Linked DNA regions of Homo sapiens. Each later gene encodes a partner of the first gene's protein in a complex. Each region holds a gene or a part of one and is shown in the gene's direction. Other genes may lie near its edges.

Region 1 (3,827 bases):
GCTTAGCACTTTGCGCATTGTGTAAGTTGGGTAACAAAAATGGCAAAAGAAATGCAGATTTCCCAGTTATCTTGCTCTGAAGACATTTCTTTAGCTAGTCTTATTTAATTTTAAAGGTTTGATAAATATACAAAGACCCAAGCATACAATTTGAGCATGCTGTATTCTACCACTTGCACTTACTCATCTTCTAGCCTTATGACCAGGAACCTTTGTTTTGGGCTCAAGTACACATCCTGATTTGGTTTCTCCCTGTTGTAATTTGAGATTTCCCAAATTAAGTCTTATAATGATTAGGTTTTGTTCTGAGTTATTTCTAGAGAAAGAAAGTATTTTAGTATGTGTAAATTGTACAATAATTTTTTTGCTGTTGTACTCACTGCTAATAGTGGATTGTATAGGGTGGTGTTTTTATTTCATTTATTGTAGACAAAAATAATGAATTTAGTATACACATACCCACTAATTCAAGTATGTCAGAGCACAAAGTTGGCAGCTGGTTATATTTAATTCAGCCCCTCTGAAAAGCACATACAGTCTATACTTTGTTTATAAATACCCTAGGTCCTCCCTGCCCCTAAATATATATTTTGGTGAAGCTGTGGTGCACTATTAATTTTCTGTTTCAAAATGCAATCTAAAGATGCAATAAATATGATGACCTTGATAGTTTTAATGAAATCTTCAATTCTTGCAGCTGTGTTTTGGAAAGTGATTAAGCAATATTTCTCAAACCTGATGATTCTTGGATATTTAGCTATTGTCCTCCAAAGAGTCATCGTTTCACGTTTTCAAACATGTGCTTTGTGCTGAAGATTCTTGTCAGATATCCTGTGCTTCCAGAGTATTTTTATCTTCAATTTTATTTAATTTTGTTTCATTTTGTTTTCATAAGACAATGTTTCAGATATGTAATGGGGCAAACCACTATAGATTTCTGTTGGATAGAAAAATGAAATGTTACTAATAAGTTTAAATTGACCCTTCGTTGACTATCAGTACTGTTGATACATTTATTAGAATGTATGTCTCAGAAGATGGTTTCTGTTTAAATTTATGGTCAAGTTACAACAACTGAATTCTAATATGGATTAAAAACTCCACATAAATATTTTTCCCCATGCGTCTTGGGTTATAATTTTCCTTTTAGACTTGCAAATATGCTTTTATTGCAATTTTGTCTCCATCTGTACTGTAGAATTACAAGCCTTGTGCTCTTTATCTCTACATTTTCCACTTCTACATGATGCAATTAAGATGCCAATGAAAAGTATTGTGAACATTATTCTCAGGACACTTTTACCATACTTGAGTAGTACTAAGTCAGGTGTAACATGGAAAGCTAAGGGTTTCACCTTCTGATTTTGACATAATTGGAAATTTTCTATAATGGTAAGATGTTTATAGGAAAGTAATGGTAGTTCATGTTTGAGAATTTTTTTATTGCTTTCATTTCCCAGTTAAATGATATTTAACACCTGGGAAAACAGGACAGCTCAGATTGTCGAGTTAGTAAACATGAGCGATGTAAAAACTTTATTTGAAATCTCCTAAGTGAGACATTAAACATTTTAGTGCTAGTTTAAGCCATTAAAAGTAAAGTTTAAGTTTACGTCATTGTCTCAAGTGTGGCTGTAAAAATCAGATCTAGAGTTTAGAGACATACTTGTTAACTTTGGAGCACAGGTTTGATATTTATGCTTCTAAATACATTAAAACATTTCTGAATTGCAGTTGAATGGTTGGAGATTGCTGGCGATGTGATGCTGCACTGAAAAAACTGGTCACACAAAATGTTTATATGTTTGACTGCATAAGTATTATTTTAGGTCATAAAGGTTATAACAAAATACATTTAACATTGCTTTCTTTTTAGCAAGAGGTCACAGATGCTATTTTTTCTCAGTTTTTAATGCTTTAATTTGAAAGAAAAATGCATCCTAACCATTCCATCCTGTTGGTGCAGAGAAATTTTGGTGATTTATTAGAAGACTTTTAAGGAGGGTGGATACATAGTTTTTCAACTGCAAAAATCATGTCATCTCTTCAGTAACTGTTAAAGTGTAATTCTCTGCCTTCATTATCAAGTCCAGGACAGTGTTTATTTTGAATCGTTAACATTATTTAAAGACTGAAAATTCATTGCAATTAGGGAACGCACAGCCTCACAAAAAGTGGTTGTGATTGCAAGGATTCTTTATGTCAGTGAACTTAAAAAGGGAATGGGGGAAGAGATGCATGCCTTTCTAAAGGTATGCTAGAGTCACCTGTGTAGCATTGTAATTATGTACTATCAAACCCCCAAGATGCTGATGATAGGCCTTCTCTGTAAGAATCCTTCTCATAGTGAAGCACTGTTGATGTTTTGTTCACCGGATATGTTGGGTAGCAGAAAAGGCCTAGAACCAGTTTTAAGATTATGCCTACATCTCTAGAAGACTAGTACACTGGCATCATCTTAGGTTTCTAAATATTATTTAATTCCTTAATTTGGAAAGCAGTTTTAATGTTTACAGTTTAAGATACTCATTTTCAGTAACTAGTGTTAAAGATTTTTATCTTTGCCTGTCTACTGTAACTTAAGACTTTCATAGAATAATTTTTTATAGAGTATATGGTATATTGTGTCAATCTTGGAAGGAAAGCTGTTGCATATCAATTGTAGGTCATGTATTTTACTATATGTTGCATAGTATTTTGCATTCTGTAAATACGAATGTTAAAACATTTCAGGTCAGCAAAATTAGAAGTCATTTCTAGTCCTCAAAGCAGAAATAATTAGAAATGTTAACATTTAAGTGCTTATCATATGCCAGATACTATTCTGAATATTTTATGTATATTCATTCATTTAGTTGTCATATTGGCTTTATGTGACATAACTGTCATTATACCAGTGTTGTCCAAGGTTGCTAGCAGGAAATGGCAGAGCCAGGAGTTGGACCTAGGTTTAATCCTATCCATATTCCATGTTACAAATTGACATGATTTTCCATATTAAAAAATTTTCATTTATTTTGTACCTCATTCACATGAATAGTAATGTGACAAACTAAAGTTAATACATGAAGCATTGCAATATGGAATTTTGCACATTTTTGTTAGCTTTACATTATTTGCTGATACCAACTTTTGGTAGGAAGGAAAACAGGGAAGGTGATTGCTGCTATTCTGGAATGTGTCCATTGAAAAGAAAATAGGCGCTTTGTCTCCTACAATCTTAGAGAAAGTTTTACATACTTAAGTGGGTACCACAGATAGGCATGTACCTTAAATTCAAATCTACAGTTTTACAAAATGTTTTCCTTTGTGTGCCTTTCCTATGTCAAATTAGCCAGAAGGAAGAAGAGACGTTAAGAATGGCAGATAAATTTAACAGGTAATGATACAGAGATTGGCCATTACGCCAGCTCTCAGGAGAAAAACAACTAGGATGTCTTGAAACCCGTGCATTTAATTTTAGAAATGGCAAATTTGTAAGCGTGTCATTTAAGTAATTTGATGCTCAGTTTTAGGGTCTAAGTTGACCTCGAGTGAGCCATGCAAAAATAGCTTTAAAATTATACATGAGCAGCTCAAAGTAAACGTGTATTTTTTAGTAACAATGAAATTGTCAAATTTCAAGATTTTAATAACAGGACAGTTCAACTAATAAACTTTATTGCATACAAGATTTATTGCAATGTGGGAAAATTAAAATTCTCAGTCTCAGAATTCTTTCTGCAGTTGTGATTCTTGAATAAATGCCTCAGCACGATGTCTGGTATGTAGTGGATGTAGGCACTCAGTAAATCTTCAGATGAATGTGCTAAATGATCACTCAGTGT
Region 2 (2,877 bases), on another chromosome or scaffold:
AGCAACCTAGCTCCAGAAGAAAGAAACCTGAGTCCCCATTTCCTTAGCTTTTTATTCCACCAGGGCCCCTGCCCATCTGATGGTGCTCACCTGCAACCACGGCTCTCACGCCGGTCACCTCTGGAAGCACAGACTCACTGGGGCGGCCTGGCCATTCGAATCAAGTACCAAGCCGCCTGGGTTTCCCTTCCAGCACTGAGAATACGTAATGTGTCCCCGGGCGTCTGGGTATCCCCGAATCCAATCAAGTTGACACCTGAGTCACCTGCCACTCAGTGGGGAAAGCAGGCCTGGGGTGCCTGAATCACCAGACTGCGCTGCCGGTGAATGGTGGATCTGGCGTTCTCACGCCCGAGCCTCATGGGCAGCTGTGTCATTGTCATTTTGTTCCAGATCAGGTCAGAACAGAACAATGTGGCCACTGATTGATTTTCTCTTCCTCTCCTCCCTCCACAGACCGCGGCCTTCAGTGTCACAGCGTGGCCTTGCTTGTCTGCCACAGCGGGAGCTAAGCCGGCCCTGGGCCAGCACTCCGAGAGGTGGAAGGGGCCCTGCCAGCTCTGGGGAGCAGCAGCCTTGGGCTGTTCTGAGCTTTAGGCAAGAGAAGAGAAGCATCTCTTGCATCCGTGCCCCTGGGGGCCTCTTCAGCTTTGCAGTGGTTTGTGGGAAGACATACCTCCCAGAGGGGCATGGACTGCCACCAGGACTGACCCTGGCGTCGGGGAGAAGGACACTTGCAGAGCCTTGAGATCACCTGTTTGGCAGGTCCTGGACTGGGGCCGGGCAGGCAGGGGCAGGGAGGCGCCCCGGGTGGGCTTTGGGGCTGCGGCACTGCCACACATCCTTTCCCTCCTGGCCTGCCCTGCTGGGGCTCTACTGCCATCTATAGATGGTGTCCTGGGCCTGGGAAACTAGGTTCCCAGGGGTTGAGACCAGAAAGGTGACCAAGACAGATTTTTTAAGGTGCAGAAACTGCAGGGGGGCCTCAGTGACATCCATGAGGCCTTATTAGCAAAGGACACCCAGACCTCCAAGGTTTGTGGGCCCCTTCCACAAAGCTGTAAGTCCCAGCCCACCTACTCAGGGCCTTGCTCAGTGCTGTGGCCCGGTGGGGACACAGTTGCTCGTGGCCACTCAGTGGAGCTGGGCCTGCAGCAGACTCAAGGCTCCGAGTGCCCTGGGGGTCACCCCTCCCCTCCCCTCCTCAGAGCCCACCCTGAGAGGCAGCAGTGACCCCCATGGCACACACCTGCCAACAGCACTGGGGGCTTCTCCCCAGGAGACCACGCTGCCCTCCAAGACCAGGAGCAGCTGTGAGCTGGAGACAGCAGAGGGACCCCAGGGTGTCCCCTGCAGATCCCACCAGGGCCGCATCCATCTCAGTGTGGAGGACAGTGACGGGACCCTCACCATCCTCTTGCGTTTTGGCCCCCATTTGCTCCCTGAGCTCCAAGATAAGAATGGCCCCGAGAGAACTGCTGAACATTTGTTCATTGCTGTCACCTCCTGAGTCACTGGGGTCCCTCACCAGCACCTCCCTGACACCTGGGCTATGGAGAGGTTGGCGCCTGTCAGTGACCATCCTAATGCCTCTCGCTCACTCCCAAGCCACCATTTGAGAGGGAGGGGTGTTGGTGCCCTGACAGGGACTGGGCAGGGTGTCCAAACTTGGGGCTTCCCAGGCACCTGCAGTGTGAACACTGCTTGGCTGGCTCAAGATTAGGGCCGCGGAGGGGGCTGTGCACATACCAGTTACTTAAGCAGCCACGAGTGTCCCCCATGCCTTGGTGCGGGTCCTGGAGGCCTCTTGGGGGTGGGACCTTTGGGCAGGGTTTGCCCACTGACACGCCCGCCATGGGGCACTGGCTGCATGGGGCTCCTTGGACCCTGTAGACCCAGCAGACCCCGCCTGTGTCAGGCCAGCTGCCCGAAGGCACTTGGCTGTGGTCCCAGGGGACGGCTCTGCTGGCACACTCAGGAGCCTGGCCGCGGGGACTGCAGGGAGGGTGCCTGGACCCGTGGGGTTGCTTCATTGAGATAAAGCACACTTATCACATAGCACAAAGGACGTGCCATGGTGCTTTCCCCAAAAGTTGTGTTGCTTTTATCAGTTTTCTAACTTAATAAAAAGAGTTGAGAAAATTCTTTGCCTGCCTTGTGTGCTGGGATCAGTCTTGGAGACATTGCTGGTGGCTGACTTTGGTCTTGTCCCACCAGCCAAGGCTCAAGGCCTGCCTGCTGGCATCTGCCCCTCTCATGAGCTGGGAAGGGGGAACCCACCCAGATGAGAGGTCTCCCCATTCCTGTGCCTCCTGAAGTTGCTTTAGAAGCCATGAAGTTGATTCCGTGGAGAGTCCTGATCCTGTCTGCCCCTCCTGAGAGTGATTCTCTCCTGGAAACTCTGGTAAATAGAAGTTGGGAATGTAATTCCATCCATTCGAAAAGGCAGAACCTCCAGTTGATGCTCCTTTGTCTGAAAATAACCCGAGCGCCATTCAGAGGGGCGAAATGGCTCCAGGAGGCAGCTTCACGGCCGCAGCGCCAGCTCACGGCACCGTTGCGCCCACTGGTTGCACCGTGGGCCCTGGGCTACCTGCCCTCCTTGTGCGTTTTCATAGTCACCATGAACCTCATGAGCTCAAGCGTATGCTCACGGGTAAACATCGTGTTCTGTGTTTTGTGATCTCACCTTCAGGCGCCCCTCAGACAGCGGGCAGCCCGAGAAGGTCATGCCGTGGCGCAGCCTGCGTGCAGGGTGGCTCTGCTGTGAACAGGAACCCGGAGGTGCCCCAGCACGGTGGCTCTCAGCAGTGGCTTCCGTGGTGCTCAGTGGTGTGCTGGCCCACAAAATCCAAATAGCGCCTTCACAGTGTAAGA

Evidence for each region.
Region 2: CUL3 (region 1) and KLHL25 share a complex: the UniProt entries of both Homo sapiens proteins name them as parts of the BCR(KLHL25) E3 ubiquitin ligase complex.

Annotation. Positions count from the first base shown.
Region 1 is NC_000002.12:224,470,037-224,473,863, reverse strand, and holds the end of CUL3 (cullin-3), read left to right. Parts: 3' UTR 1-3,714; downstream 3,715-3,827. UniProt on the Homo sapiens protein: Core component of multiple cullin-RING-based BCR (BTB-CUL3-RBX1) E3 ubiquitin-protein ligase complexes which mediate the ubiquitination and subsequent proteasomal degradation of target proteins.
Region 2 is NC_000015.10:85,758,591-85,761,467, reverse strand, and holds the end of KLHL25 (kelch-like protein 25), read left to right. Parts: intron 1-456; 3' UTR 457-2,142; downstream 2,143-2,877. UniProt on the Homo sapiens protein: Substrate-specific adapter of a BCR (BTB-CUL3-RBX1) E3 ubiquitin ligase complex involved in various processes, such as translation homeostasis and lipid synthesis.